2 separate regions of the Homo sapiens genome follow, and region 2 is linked to region 1. A link means that fine-mapping ties the variant in region 1 to the expression of a gene that starts in the linked region. Tissue or cell type: whole blood. Region 1 holds a variant in brackets; the other region holds the start of a gene. All regions are shown on one strand. Distances are between the middles of the regions.

Region 1 (8,217 bases):
GCTTTTTATAGGAGCTGTGTCATTTTATATTCTGCCCATAATGTACAAGGGTTCCAATTTCTCTACATCCTCACCAACACTTGCTGTTTTCTTTTTCTTTTTCTTTCTTTAAATAATGGCTATCTTAACAGGTATATTAGTTCATTTTCACACTGCTATAAAGAACTGTTAGAGACTGGGTAATTTATAAAGAAAAGAGGTTTAATTGACTTATAATTCTGCATGGCCAGGAGGCCTCAGGAAACTTACAATCATGATGGAAAGCGAAGGGGAAACAGAGACCTTCTTCACATGTAGCAGGAAAGAGAGTAGTAGCAAGAGCAGGGGAAAGTGCCTCATAAAACCATCAGATCTTGTGACAACTCACTCAGTACCATGAGAACAGCATGGAGGAAACCATCCCCCTGATCCAATCACTTTCTACCTGGTACTTCCCTCAACACTTGGGGATTATGGAGATTACAATTCAGGATGAGATTTAGGTGGGGACACAGCCAAACCATACCAATAGTTATAAAGTAATATCTCATTGTGGTTTAGATTTGCATTTTTCTGATGATTCGTGATGTTGAGCATCTTTTCACATACCTGTTGGCCACTTATATGGGTTCTTTGGGGGGAAATATCTATAGAAGTCCTTTGCTCATTTTTAAATTGAGTTATTTGGTTTTTTTCTTGAGCTGAAGAAGTCCCATATATATGTATTTCAGATATTAACACTTTATCAAAAACATGGCTTGCCAATATTTTCTCTTATTCTGTGTGTTGCCTTTTCACTCTGTTGATTGTTTCCTTTGCTGTGCAGAAGCTTTTAAATTTGATATAGTCCACTTGTTCTATTTTTCCATTTCTTGCCTGTGCTTTTGGGGTCATATCCAGGAAATCATGGCTAAGGCCAATGTTAGGAAGTGGATCTACCTTTTGAAGGGAGAAGAGTCAAAGCATTTGTGGACACATTTAAAAACTTCCAGATATGTTAATATTCATTTAAAATATCATATTAGTCCATCAGAAGGCAGAATCTGAAGGCAAAGTGTATTAAAATTATGGTTTCATTATTTAATTGCTGTGTAGCATTAGAAAGATCACTTAATTCTTGGTGCCTGTTTTCTTAGCTGTAAAATGGGGATGATGACATACATTTCTGTTATATATAACATCATATAACATCTATTCATCCCTGAAAAAAATGTGTTCTGCCTTAAACAAGTTTTCAAGAAAAAAACAACCCCATCAAAAAGTGGGCAAAGGATATGAACAGACACTACTCAAAAGAAGACATTTACGCAGCCAAAAGACACATGAAAAAATGTTCATCATCACGGGTCATCAGAGAAATGCAAATCAAAACCACAATGAGGTCCCATCTTACACCAGTTAGAATGGCGATCATTAAAAAGTCAGGAAACAACAGATGCTGGAGAGGATGTGGAGAAATAGGAACGCTTTTACACTGTTGGTGGGAGTGTAAATTAGTTCAACTGTTGTGGAAGACAGTGTGGCGATTCCTCAAGGATCTAGAACTAGAAATATCATTTGACCCAGTGATCCCATTACTGGGTATATACCCAAAAGATTATAAATCATGCTGCTATAAAGACACATGCACACATATGTTTATTGCGGCACTGTTCACAATAGCAAAGACTTGGAACCAACCCAAATGCCCATCAATGATGTACTGGATTAAGAAAATGTGGCACATATACACCATAGAATACTATGCAGCCATAAAAAAGGATGAGTTCATGTCCTTTGCAGGGACACGGATGAAGCTGGAAACCATTATTCTGAGCAAACTATCACGAGGACAGAAAACCAAACACTGCATGTTCTCACTCATTGGTGGGAATTGAACAAGAACACTTGGACACAAGGGAGGGGAACATCACACACCAGGGCCTGTCATGTGGTGGGGGGCTGGGGGAGGGATAGCATTAGGAGAAATACCCAATGTAAATGACGAGTTAATGGCTGCAGCAAACTAACATGGCACATGTATACCTATGTAACAAACCTGTACGTTGTGCACATGTACCCTAGAACTTAAAGTATAATTAAAAAAAATTATTATTTTTTAATTATAAAAACATCATGCACTAAAAATAACAGGACCAATGGGAAAAATAGTGCTGGGAAAACCACACGAAACCTGTGGAACTGTGTAATCAGAGTACTCACAGAAACAGTAACACTCCTGATGAAAGTACTTGCACGGTTCTATGCAGGAATTGGCAGCTGGAATCTCAGGCAATCAACCGTTTGCAGCCTTCACCACTGGGCTTGTGCCTCAGTTGAAGGTGCTGGAGGGCATGCTTCTAATCATCACTAATCTACCACTTTAATACGGAAGCTAACTTTTTCACAGCTTTTTCATCAACACTTGTAGCTTTGCCAAATGGATATACATAACAGAAAACTCAGTGGTTCTCTTTTCCTTCCTGCCTCCCTCCCTCCGTCCCCCCCTTTCTCTTTTCTTTTCTTTCTTTCTTCCTCCCCATCCCTTCCCTTCCCTCCCTTCCCTTCCTTCTTTTTTTTTTTGAAACAGGGTTTTACTGTCACCTAGGCTGGAGTGACATCATCAGAGTTCACTGCAGCCTCGATCTGCTGGGCTCAAGCCATCCTCCCACCTAAGCCTCCCGAAGAGCTAAGACCACAGGTGTGCACCACCACCCCAAGCTAATTTTTGTATTTTTAGTAGAGACAGGGTCTTGCCATGTTGGCCAGGCTGGTCTCAAACTCCTGGGCTCAAGTGATCTGCCCGCCTCAGCCTCCCAAAATGCTGGGATTACAGGCATGAGCCACCATGCCTGGCCATGACCTAGTGGTTCTTGAAGTCTTTAAACCAGCCTTCACTTGCACTAAGAAAAAGTACTTCGATGCACTTTTAATTTTTTTTAAGTCTTCATTTATTATCATGCCTCTTCTTCTTTCATTGTGAGAAAACTTGTGAGATCTTTTTTTTTTCTTTTTTTTTTCTGAGATGGAGTTTTGCTCTTGTTGCCCAGGCTGGAGTGCGGTGGCGCAATCTCGGCTCACTACAACCTCCGCCTCCTGGGTTCCGGCAATTCTCCTGCCTCATCCTGCCTCAGCCTCTCAAGTGGCTGGGATTACAGGCGTCCACCAGCACACCTGGCTAATTTTTTTTTTTTAAGTAGAGACGGGGTTTCACCATGTTGGCCAGGCTGGTCTTGAACTCCTGACCTCAGGTGATCCACCCGCCTCAACCTCCCAAAATGCTGGGATTACAGGCATGAGACACTGCGCCTGGCCATGAGATCATTTTAAAACATTAATGTACTGGGAAGAATCAAATATGAACTACAAGATGTGTTATAAACATCACTCCCTTGTTTACTAACCGTGTATGAGCTAATTTGCAGCAAGGATCAGGCATTGTAACAGCCTCATGAAGTTGTGAAGATTAAACGAAGTGACACATGTGAATCATTGAGGACAATGCTGGGCAAATAGTAAGTGCTTAAAAAGTTATTTTGATTATAATCATATTTGTTTAACCAATCCCCTCTTAGTTTTCCTGCTCCATTTGGAACTACACACCACTCTAGAACCTATTTTTCGAGTTTTTCCTATTTTCACAGTGGTTAGCTCAGATCAGAGCCTTCAGTAATTTCTCTCAGGCCTGGAGTTCCTGGGACTGATTATGTGTGAGAATTTACAAATATGGATTCACTTACAAAGTCCATTCCTGTGTAGCATAGTTTGGCTTTAATTTAGAAACATTTCGCTCATTTAATTTTAGGAACAAGTATAATGATAAAACAAATACATCTCGAATAGGTGCAGCCCTTCAGACTATATACTTTTATTTTCAGAATGATAACTTCAAGGCACC[T/C]AGATAATTACGAAACAATAAAAAGTTATATTATTTATTGTGTTTTCTCAGGGAAGGATGGGCATTGACTGTCTTATAGGAATATTCTTTTTTTTTGAGACAGAGTCTTGCTCTGTCACCTAGGCTGGAGTGCAGTGGCATGATCTCGGCTCACTGCAACCTCTGCCTCCGGGTGCAAGTGATTCTCCTGCTTCAGCCTCCAGAGTAGCTGGGATTACAGGCGCGCCCTACCACGCCCTGCTAATTTTTGTATTTTTAATAGAGAAGGGGTTTCACCATGTTGGCCAGGCTGGTCTCGAACTCCTGACCTCATGATCCGCCTGCCTTGGCCTCCCAAAGTGCTGGGATTACAGGCGTGAGCCACCATGTCTGGCAGGAATATTCTAAAATATAAAAAGAAACAAACTGGGCATATTGGTTAACCCTGAGTTATGGATAAAGTTCAAGTTGAGAAATCTTGCCTTTCTTCAAGCAGTTTAATTACTCAAGGTAGAATCTCTTTAATAAGTAACACTATATTTATTAGATTTTCAAGGAAATATTACTTGTGCCGCATAAACGGCACTTCATTGATATTTTGAAAAAGCTACTATATCTTAAACACTATAAATTTTCCTAAATTCCCCTCTTTTGAATTCTTTTGGTAACAACAGCCATGACAATAGAGATAACTAAGATTGCTCTCATGTTTGCTGTGTGCCAAGGCCCTGTGATTCACTAAATGAACTCAATGCTAAAATTGTCCTTTAATCTGGACTTTGCCTACGTATGTGAACTTGGCACTGTGTTAAAATCAAACATTTGTGTCGTTAGGACTTTTTTTTTTTTTTTTTTTTGAGACAAAGTCTTGCTCTGTCACCCAGGCTGGAGTGCAGCGGCATGATCTCGGCTCACTGCAACCTCTGCCTTCTGGGTTCAAGTAATTCTCCTGCCTCAGCCTCCTGAATAGCTGGGATTACAGGCGCGCGCCACCACACCCGGCTAATTTTTGTATTTTTAGTAGAGACAGGGTTTCACCATGTTGGTCAAGCTGGTCTCGAACTCCTGACCCCTCACAAAGTGCTGGGATTACAAGCGTGAGCCACCGCGCCCGGCCAGAACTTTTGAAAGGAAATTTACAAAGGTAGTTATTGGATAAAAGCGTGATAGAGTAGTTAGCACCAGGTGGCGCTAAAGGACTGAAATTGGAAACGGCTACGGTATTTGGTCCTCTTACCTGAGGGCCGGGGAAGGGCGATGCTCCTGGTTTAATGGCTGTGTTACAGGAAGGAAGGACAAGCATTTGCCTTCCTATGCCCTGTTACGAACAGATGCTAGGATTGCGCCTGTCACATTGTCTAGTTTCCCTCCCTGGAAAGTTGAACTCCCTAAAGGTAGACACAGTAACCTTACTGTGGTCTCAAGTGAACAAAAGGCCCCATAGTTTTTCTAAAGAAAAGTGAAAACAAATATCACATGAAATTGCTTTTTGGAATGCGTTTAGTCTTGCTCTCACCTTTGTAGGTATCCAGGAATGGAGACTGGACAAAGGTAGCCAAACGAGAAAACATCTCCCAGAATTCCTTGCCTCGGGAGTAGACAGTGCAAAATCCTTCCCACCAGTTTGGGGTTTATTATTTAATGCACTTCCCCTTTCCTAGACATTTCCAATGTGCTCGTAAGTGTTTTTCTCTCTGGCTGTTACCAGGAGGATAAAATCTCAGAATGGAGACCATAGATATAAGAATAAAAATAAAATCCTTCCACCGGCTTTCTAAGGGGATAGCAGGAGAAAGAACAGGAAGTGAAGTAAAAAGCCTCGCTGCAAGTAAACGTAAAACCCCGGGAGCCTGGGAAACAGAAGCTGCCAAATTAAAGAATGGCAACAGTTCCTGCAAGGAGTCAGGCACAGGGGAGGCTCCTTCCTTGGGCAGAGTTACTGGGACATTGAGAGGGAGGCTTTATGGAAAGCGACTTTCGGAGGTAGATTGAGAAAGAAAAGATGTTTAAAAAAGTGCCTGAGATTTCTACCATCAGCTCTTTCTTTTCTGAAAGTCAAGTCTACTAAAAAACCAGACCAATAGCTAAGTATCTTGCTCAATTTACATAAATCTCTTGCAATACGCATCACTACGGGCCATTTGTGATACAAGGTTTGCGCCAAGTAATTCACTTATGTCAGCAATCCACCAGCCAGTCTAACCCAGTCTGACCCAGGCATCCACATAGAGCGAGATGTTGCTGCCATTCCCTGTTTATGGAATTTTTCTGCTGTCTTAGGGAGGCTGATCATGGAAACTCCTGAGTGCAGTATTCCAAGTACAGTAGCACCAGGAATTGCATTGTGGGCTTAGAATGAAGCAATTTATCCCTTCTGTCCCCACTCCATTCCCTCCTTATTTCAAGGACCTCCATGAGACAAGGGAGAGAAGAAGGCGGTGGGAATGGCTAAGTGTCCCAATGTCTCTGGCTTAGTTCTAAGCATTTTGCTTCACGTAACCTGGAGATCAGGTCGTTCCTTGGCCAACCGGGAGAGGCTTTCTCCTCCTAGGCCTTCTGTGTTTGTTTCATTTATTTCAACATTCTCATGTGAAACCATTAAGATATTTTGCTGCTAAATGGAATTCATTCAGCCTGTAAGAACTGTAAGATCAAAGAAGGGGTATTATTAGTTTTTCAACAGTTGATCCTAAGGTTGGAAATGTGGTGATGAGGCTGGGTGTAATGGCTCATGCCTGTAATCTCAGTGCTTTGGGAGGCTGAGGTGGGAGAATCACTTGAGGCCAGGAGTAACGAACATAGTGAGACTCTGTCTCTCAAAAGAAAAAATATGCAAAAATTATCTGGACATGGTGGCACACAGCTGTATTCCTAGCTACTCAGGAGGTTGAGGCAGGAAAATCGCTTGAGTCTAGGAGTTTGAGGCTGCAGCGAGCTATGACCATGTCACTGCACTCTGGCCTAAGTGACAAAGCGAGACCCTGTCTGAGGGAAAAAAAAAAAGTGTTAAAGAATATCTCTTCTTCCCACAGATAGCCAGTGATTCTACAGGAAAACATACTCCACCTTTCTAGGTTTTCATTTATTCAAGCCCTCAAAAGGATTCTATAAACATGGGCTCATCTAGACTGAAGTATAAATAGGTTTAAGATGGGAAAATCACATGGAAAAATGAACATGGTATTAGGAGACCAAACGTGAGTCTTGGTGTCGCCGCTGATGTGCTGTGGTGTAAACGGTTTGGGTGTCAGTTTCTCAGCAGCAAAATGAATGTAATGCAAGGCAGATGTTGCCCCCACCTTAGTCAGCACTGGGAAAGAGGGATCACTTGCCTATATTGACAGCCCCTTACTTACTGTCCTCAGATCCAGCCTTTCTAATGGACAGGGGACTTTGCATTCACCATGTGGTATGTGTACTTCTACTCATTGGAACTGAGCTTGCAAGCTCTTCCCTTTGGGTCTGGAGAGCCCCTGGCACTCTTTGTTTATTATGAGGAGCAGAATGACTGGACAACACCAGCTCAGTTCCAATGAGTAGAAGTACACATACCACACGGTGAATGCACCGTAGGCGAAGCCGTTTCCCTCATGGTGGTCGTGTCTGCTAGGTTATTATTTTAGCAGCCAGTCCCTTCACACTTTTGCACAATGGTTCCCTTTGAGGCAACTTGCTATTAGATGGTTACAAAGAGACAGCATCACACTAGGGTGGCAGGTCCAGAAAAGCACTCTGAGTATGTCGTCCTGAAGTGGTTGTGATCAGCTGCCCTCTCTAAGTCTATTGGGTTAAATAGCCAGGGTGAGGTAGCATAGGCACTCCGGAAGAGGTGAGGTGATCTGGACTTTGTGTCGTGTCTTGGCAAAGCTGCTGCAGACAGTGTTGAAAGGCATGTCTTTTATTCTCCTTTCAAAGGCAACTTCCTTCTGTGTCAGTCACCTCTCTGACAAGGGCCTTGATCTTTGTGGGCACTTCTCCCAGAGTAGATTTTGGGAAAGATTTTGAGTGGCACCAACCCTTATGAATTAATATTGTTCTATAGACTACCACCATCTGGGAGGAGATCTGGGGCTGGAAATTGGGCAGGGGCATCCCAAGGACCCCCAGGAACTCATGCCTCACTTCTGTCTGCACAGAGTCCTGTAGAGTGGAAGCAGTTACTGTTCTCAGGGGATGGCACAGGTGGCACCATCCATGTGGGATTAAAGGGTTCTTAGAAAACATCGAAGACATTAAAGGGATCACTACAATTTAAAATGGCATTTTGATAGTTTGATAGATATATTCTCTGGTTCTGTTAATAACTGTAAAGTCTTAAACATAATGTGCTATTTAAAAATTGCCACATTCAAGCTGTTGTCTGTGTGTGTGTGTGTGTGCAT
Region 2 (8,217 bases), 610 kb after region 1:
AAAGACATACAGTTAAAACAAAAATTAAAATATTAATACTATTTTCCCCAAGCTAAATTAATGAAATGTGTAAAAAATGATAATATCTAATGTTTGATGGTAGGAGGGTTTAGAGCTCTCATATATAGCTCACTGTAGAATAAATTGTGAGAGACTGAATATATAAAGGGGCACTGGCCAGACCAGATATTAAAATAGAACTCTGACCCACAGTCTGAAGCAAGCTGCAGCAATTGCCCAGGAAACCAAGCCATTGTCCACAATAGAAAACCCAGGAATCTAGCCTGACAGTCAAAACTGCCATCTCTAGTAACAATCCAGGAACCTTAACTATAACCTCTGAAACAATCAGCCTAAAATGACCAGGACTTTATTGGTAGTTGACAACTTCCTTAATTTTTACTCCCACTTCCAACTAAGAGCAACCAGAGAAAACCAAATATCCACCCCTACCAATCACATAGGTTGCCCCACTTCTGGTTACCCCACCTGCAGCTTTCTCATGCCAGCAGCCTCCAACCAGGGCCTACCTGAAGCCTTCCCTTTTCCTACCTTCCCACTCTTGTGCCTGTGTTTGAGTCTCTGCCACAGCGCAAGTGCTGGTGGCTGACTCCCTTTCTAGAGTAAGCTCTGAATAACTCCTCAATGGCATTTCTCATTTGGATGATCTTTATTCCTGCAGTTGATACCACCTTGCATTATAGCATTTTCCAGAATTATGCACAGGGATGTTAATTAGATGTACTTAAAGTATACAACAAAATAGAATGATTATATACATTACTTTTCATACGATGGAATTATAATGTGAAATCATGTTTTATTAAAATCATGTTTTAGAAGAATATTTTACAAGATTGTTATTGGGAAACAATCTTGAAATATGACTAAGTAAAAAAAAATGACAAAACTTGGTAATATGATCTTTGTTGGACAAGTTTTTAAATAAATACAGAGAGACAGAGAGGGGAAAGGAGGAAGAGAGAGAAAAAAGAGAAGAAAAAAGAAAGGCATATATCCAACAATCATAATCTAAGTGGAGAAATCATGAGTGGTTTTAGAATTTTATTTTATAATTTATTGTATTTTTCCAGTTATCTATTATGAACACATAGTACTTTTGTAATTAGAAAAATGTTATTAAGAAAATCTAATGTGGTTGCTCAGGGAAATTTCCAATAAGCTATATCTTAAAATGACATTTAGAATATTAGAAGGTAACAGGTTTCAGTAGGTACAGTTTTGGAAAAACTAAACTGCAAAATAAGCTGAGGCTGGCCAAATTTGCTAAAGATAACATCAATATTCTTTTAGCTATTTGGTACAGTTAATTAAATAAAGGCTAAGATTGTAGCTTGGAATTAGTAGTGTAATGTGGTGTAAATTTGCTTGTCATTAGCTGTCACACCTGTAGATTGAGAAAGGTAGCAATCTAAGAAGGAATGGAAGCTGAAGATTGGGAAAAGAATCTACAACACATCCCCTAATTAGCAAGGGCATAAGAGTGAATTATTTTAACTTTGTCCACTTTGCCGATTTTTCAAGTTTCCTGAATTTATAAATGCTATTTAATAATGGAAAATATTAAAGCCGTTCATATTGTTTAAGCAATGAAATAATGCTATTGTCACGAATAAAATGGCTATAATTTGAGTTAGTAAACTGTTTCAGACCTACGAAACAAACATATGAGACAGATCCTTGAAACCAGTGAGCCACTCTACAAATATAAGGTCTTAGGTCTGTTTTCTGAAGTCTATTAACAATTTTAGGTCCTATAGACTGAGAATGAGAAGTTGAATCTTACCTTTACCTCCATCTGCATTTTTGTTTTAGTTTTAGTTTTTGTTTTTGTTTTTGTTTTTTGAGACAGAGTCTTGCTCTGTCACCAGGCTGTAGTGTAGTAGTGTGATCTTGGCTCACTGCAACCTCCGCCTCCCGAGTTCAAGCGATTCTCCTGCCTCAGCCTCCCGAGTAGCTGGGATTACAGGCGCACACCACCACGCCTGGCTAATTTTTGTATTTTTAGTAGAGACGGGGTTTCACTATGTTGACCAGGATGGTCTCGATCTCTTGACCTCAGGGGATCCGCCCGCCTTGGCCTCCCAAAGTGCTGGGATTACAGGCGTGAGTCACTGCGCCCAGCCCTTTACCTCCGTATCTTGAAGTTGGGAGAGGGTGGACTGAGCAGGTGATTTGACACAGAATCAGTGACTGTTAGGCTGACTACTCCTCAAACTTGAAAGTATATGCATATGACTGAGGGATACTATTAAAATCCAGATTGTGGTTAAATACATCTCTCAAAGGGCCCCAAATTCTTCATTTTTAACAAGCTCCCAGGTAGTCTTTGGACTACACTTAGAGTAGTTGGAGAATACAAGACCACCTAGATAAGAGAGCCTCAAACTCTCACTTCACATGAGCAAATGGGATTTGGAGGTCACATGTGAATTTCATCCTGTCCACTGTCCCAGCACGAACCTGCTAGTTCATAGTAGGTTTCTTCCTCTAATTCACCTTTCCATACCTGTGTCTCTTCACTTTTCCAGTCTCTCCAAAAGGAAAGAGGCTCATAATACTTTATTGTAATCAAGAGAGTATACTGAATGCGGAACAAACTTGGGGAATTGAGAGTTTCTACGGTTAAATGAGCAGAGGAAAACCTATAAAGTCTGGCTATATCTTTAATAAGACCCATAACACCCTTCTTGAGAAAGAGAATAAACATTCTCATTCCAGAAAAGTAGAAAGGCCAGGAAGGCCCAGAGTGGATGGCCTTCAGCTTTGCTTGCTTGGGCTGCTTGACTTCTCACCAAAATAAAATGGAACCATAAAACAAAAATGACCTTGTGGTTAAGACAGTGGTAATAATCCCTTATTTTCCTTCTTCATCCCAATCTCATCCATTCAGCATAGAAGAGGAGATTGCCCAGTTGGAGAGGCTGTAGTCCTAGAGGTTTATGGGTGGCTGTCACTCATAACAGAAAAGAGAAAATTGGAGTTTGTGAGGAAAGTCAGAAAAGTGGAAGAGCTCATTTTATTTCTCTTTCCCGTGGATACTCGACTGAGGGCTTCCACAGTCTCTTTGGTCTGTATTAAAGTTTTTCTGGGATCTGGAGTTCATCATGAGCAATGTTTGGCCCTGGGCTGCTTTGCAAGAGATTTTAGAAACTCTTGGGTTAGGTTTATACTTGCCCTAGGTTTATACTTAGGGCATTGGGTGCTTGCTTATGGATTTCTTTTTTCTTTTTTCTTTTTTTTCAGATAGGGTCTCACTCTGTTGCCCAGGCTGGAGTGCAGTGGCACCATCAATGCTCACTGCAGCCTTAACCCCCACCTCAGCCTCCTGAGTAGCTGGAACTACAGGCGCACACCATTATGCCCGGCTAATTTTTGGTATTTTTTGTAGAGACAGGGTTTTGCCATGTTGTCCAGGATGGTCTCAAACTCTTGAGCTCATGAAATCTGACTGCCTTGGCCTCCCAAAGTGCTGGGATTACAGGTGAAAGCCACTGCACCTGGCTGCTTATAGACATTTAAATGCCTCAGGGTGGTCTATCCTGTCGGCTGAGTGATTAGCCCACTGGAAGAGGAACCCCAGCAAGGCTTGGAGGAAGAAGATGGAGGTAAGGCTGTTTAGGCCCTGGGGAGAAGACAGGTGTCTCAGAGATGATGTCACCTTGGCTTCTGGGCCATTGAGGAATCATGGGTTGAGCAAGCTACAGACAGAGTACTGAGTCCATGACTTCCTACTGGGTCAGAGTCAATGAGGCACAGGGAGTCAAAAAAGGTACTGAGGCAATCACCACATGCTGCCATTTGCAATGCCCTCTGCTGGTCACCAGCTACTCCAGTGAATGGAAATTGTAAAATGTCTGTCTTTGGACAAGGTGCTGCAGATTCCTGAGGGTTAAGAAACAGAATTCATAATGTTCAGAAACATGGAGAAGGAATCAGTCATTCTGAAGGCTGGAAGTAATACAGTGGTTGTGCAGATTTTGACCAAGGACAACTTCATATTGTGTCTTCACTTGAACATTTACCTATTGAATATCCTCAACAAAAGTTTAACAATTAATTTATTAAACAACAGAGATTTTTTTTAAATCAATGTTCATATGACAGGAGAAGACAAAGTAGCAAGCAAAAATAATGATATTATTTGTTGGCGTATAAATTTTCTCTGACTCTCCACTGCAAAGACTGCTTTATATTCACTGAATATACTTAAAAAAGAGAGAGAAAAAAGGACAAGAACACTTTTAGAGTAAGCAGCATTTGGCAATCACAGAGACTTTGGCATCAGGCAGGGCTGAATTCTATTACTAGTTCTGCCTCTTACTAGCTGCATGACCTCTGAGCTACGGTATTCTCCCCTATAAATGGGGATGATAGTAGGAATTGCTGTGAGGATTAAATGAGATAATTTATGCAAAGCTATAAACCCAGGGCATGACATAGTAAGTGCTTAATAAACACTAGAATAACTAGAGAAACAAGAACAACAATAAAATAAGCTATAGTATTAGCAATGGTTATGTTCACATCCTTCAAAGCAGAATTCCATTGAGTTTGGAGAATTGGCAGCAGAAATGAACCCTAGCAGGTCCGTCCCCTAGAAGAGATTTCCAGGCTCAGATGAAGCTAAAACTACATTTCCCAGAAGGCCCTGGGCCAAGTGTGTGGTTTCCTCTTATTTCCGGGTCTGTCAGGTGACTCTCCCGTGGCGCCATGGCGGAAGCAGAGGAGCAGGTAAAGGGTGCAGGTGGTAGTTGAGGGCACAGGGATATAGAGACTAGGGTGGGCTGTTTGGGGAGGGTGGAGTGGAGTGGGTGGAGGTGCGGAGCTGCTGGAATAGCGCAAGGCAGGTCCGCGGCAGGGCGGGGTGGGATGGCGAAAGTTGGTTTCGGGGAGCAGAGAGGATGCCAGCCCCGGGAGGGCACCTAGGGAAAGCGCTCTGACACACCCCCGCGTTCGGGCTGCCTTTCCTCGGGCCCCATCCCTGTGGCCTTTGCCCAGGGAAATTTTGGCATGAAGGCAGGCCCGGCTACCTCAGGGACTGACTGCCTGTGGGAGGAGGAAGAGAGGCCGGGTGACTGAAATTTAAGTTGCTTTCCACTTGAAGTAGGACAATAAGAACTAGGAGAGAGTAGACGATGAGTTTTGTTTTGTATCTATTGGAGTTAGGTACAGAGCTGGAGCACTGTTGCGGTGCAGCAGGGATTAAATGCATCCGTTCTGGAGCAAAAATGCCTGGGGTCCAAGTGCTGGTTCCTTTTCTTACCCAATGTGCTACTTTGAGCTACTTATTTAACTTTCCAGTGTGAGATGGGGGTAATAATAAGGCCGTCCTCAGAGGGTGGTTTAAGATGGAGAGAGGAGTTTATACACAAAGTTAGAGTACTTAGAACTGTTGGGCTTAGTAAAAATTAAATGGGATTATTTGTTGCTGGTAGTATCCAGTCAACAACTGGCAACGTGGCACTGAAGTTTAGGGTAGAAATTGGTGATGGGAATATGAATTATTTTCATATAGCAGTAGTGGTAATCACACATTTTATGAAATGACGAAGTAAAATAAAAAAGACAAAAAAGAGAAGCAGACCAAAAAAGAGGCTAGAACTTGGGGGAGATAACTTAAGTTTCCATTTCCAGTGTTATTTCAGTTGGATACTGTTTTTCTTCACAAGTTAACAGGGCTGTCAGTTGCAGTCATTGTCTCTAAACAGTGACTTGATGATGGGCTGTTTAGTATCATAAGAGTCATTTACCTAGTTCAATAATTTTTACTATTTTCAACATACTTCATTTGTTTTTACTTCATAGTGAAAATTTGTTCTGTATATATTTTATATATGCCAATAATTGAGACGTTTGACTAGGTAGAAATTTGGTTTGGCTGGTCCTTGTGATAACAAGATAACAAAGTCTCTTATCTAACACTAGAGACTCCTATTTCCATTCTAGCAGTTCAAAGGAAAACACTCATTAAGAACATATCATTTCATGACTGCCATTGCTCCTTTGAATAAGGGTGAGATTGTTTTTCACATTGTGCATCTTTATTTCATGTTGAAATGTTTGTTTTATGGTTTGATTTGAAAGCAAAAAACTGAGTTTCATATGTTCTTAGATATAGTGGAATAGAAATGGAGAGAGTTGCTCCTAGAAAAACCATTGTTTTTTCTTCCATTGAAAAAAACCTATGAAATATTTACCACTGTTTAGTGCAGAAGAAGAATTTAACAAAGTTGTCTGATATAAAAATGACACATACAAAATTAGGGATATAATAATGTTTCACATTTGTACATTATTTTCTAGTTTTAAAAACCCTTCCATATTGCATTTGGTCTTCCCAAAAGAATTCTATGAGGTAAATGTTTACTCTCATACATGGGTGAAACACCTCTGATATTCTAGACTTTCCAGGGGCTTCTAATCTTATTCAGAGGAAAAGCCACAGCCATTACGGTAGCCTGGTTGTCCCACAGGACCTTGACCCAGCTGCCCTTAGCCACCTTTTCTTGACCTCATTTTTCCCACTACTCTCCTTCCCTTCTGTGACTCTGCATCAGCTGTACTGGCTCTCTTAGTCTTCAAAAAGCCAGGCAGGTTCCTATCTCAGGGCCTCTTTGCTCATGCTGTTCCTTTTTGAGGAACCCTGATATTTACAGGCTTCCTCATTTCCTTCATGTCTTTGTCCAAGTGTTCTTTTTCATTGCGACCTTCCCTGACCATGCTTTGAAACCTTCCTGCATTATTTTTCCCTATAATGTGCATCACCGTTTGACATACTGTATTATAAAATTTGTTTTTTTTTTTTTCCCTGTATATTTCTGTGTACCTCTTACCACAGAGCTTGGAACATCCTGACAAGGATTTGTTCACTGCTGTATGTCCAATACCTAGAATATTGCTTGTTACTTAATAAATTTGTGTTAAATGATTGACTTTTACTGATAAACAAATTGAAATTCAGGCAACTTGAGTAACGTGCTCAGGCTTATATCTATAATATAATAAATCTCCAGTCCTCTGTCTCCATAGCTCATGACTTTTCACTAGAATACCCTACCTTTTTAAAATATATGTAAGAACCTAAATCTAAATAGTTTTTTTACTTTATGAAGTAGAATTAGCCCTTTCCATTTTAATGATTTTCCCTCAAGCCACCATTCCACTTTGATGCTTTAACAGCCAATATGTAGTTGGAGTGGGCATTCTCCTCTCCAGTGGTGTCAGTATCTTAAAAAGACTAGTCGTGGACCAGGCACAATGGCCCATACCTGTAATCCCAGCACTTTGGGAGGCCAAGGTGGGGCGATTGTTTGAGCCCAGGAGTTCGAGACGAGCCTGGGCAACATAGCAAAACCCTATCTCTACAAAAATTACAAAAATTAGCCAGGCATGGTGGTGTGTAGTCCCAGCTACTCGGGAGGCTGAGGTGGGAGGATTGCTTGAGTCAAGAGGGTCGGGGCAGCAGTGAGCCATGATCGTGCCACTGCACTTCAGTCTGGGCAACAGAGCAAGACCCTGTTTAAAAAAAAAACGAAAAACAAACAAAAAAAAACCCAGCAGTCTGTTGTAAATGGCTGAAAGACACATTCACAAATTGTTCAGTTCTTTTTTTTAAAAGAAAGTAAGTAATTGTACCTAATCTTATCCTTTATAGATTAAAAATGGTTAGGCTTTTCTCTGATTTGTTTTTGCATTTCACAGTAGGAAGCCATTGAAATCTGATGACGGTAGTAGGGCTTTATTATACCATTTTTTTAAAGCTAAAAGTGTATAAAAATGGAGAAAATAGGGCTGCGTGCGGTGGCTCATGCCTGTAATCCCAGCACTTCGGGAGGCTGAGGCGGGTGGATCACCTGAGGTCAGGAGTTCGAGACCAGACGGGCCAACATGGTGAAACCCCGTCACTACTAAAAATACAAAAAAATTAGTCAGGCATGGTGGTGGGCGCCTGTAATCCCAGCTACTCGGGAGGCTGAGGCAGGAGAATCACTTGAACCCAGGAGGCAGAGGTTGCAGTGAGCCGAGATTGTGCCATTGCACTCCAGCCTGGGTGACAAGAGGGAGACTCCATCTCAAAAACAAACAACAACAACAAAAAAACCCCCAAAAATGGAGAAAATAACTGTTCTATTGAACTTTTTAGAAAACTTGGCATACATTTTTTTCTTGGTATCATGTATCATAAATGCCAGT

Evidence for each region. PIP is the estimated chance that this variant, and not a neighbour inherited with it, causes the effect.
Region 2: VPS41 starts here. The variant in region 1 is fine-mapped to the expression of VPS41 in whole blood (INTERVAL, PIP 0.94).

The regions. Positions count from the first base shown.
Region 1 is chr7:39,516,903-39,525,119 of GRCh38, reverse strand. LOC105375237 (a long non-coding RNA gene) reads left to right here and starts at 2,618. Exons shown (of 4, transcript XR_927183.2): 1 at 2,618-2,659; 2 at 3,384-3,473. The variant T/C (reference allele first, on the strand shown) is at 3,857.
Region 2 is chr7:38,905,692-38,913,908 of GRCh38, reverse strand. It overlaps VPS41 (VPS41 subunit of HOPS complex), which reads left to right and starts at 4,718. Exons shown (of 29, transcript NM_014396.4): 1 at 4,718-4,755. The coding sequence starts at 4,735. RefSeq lists an enhancer at 4,611-4,710.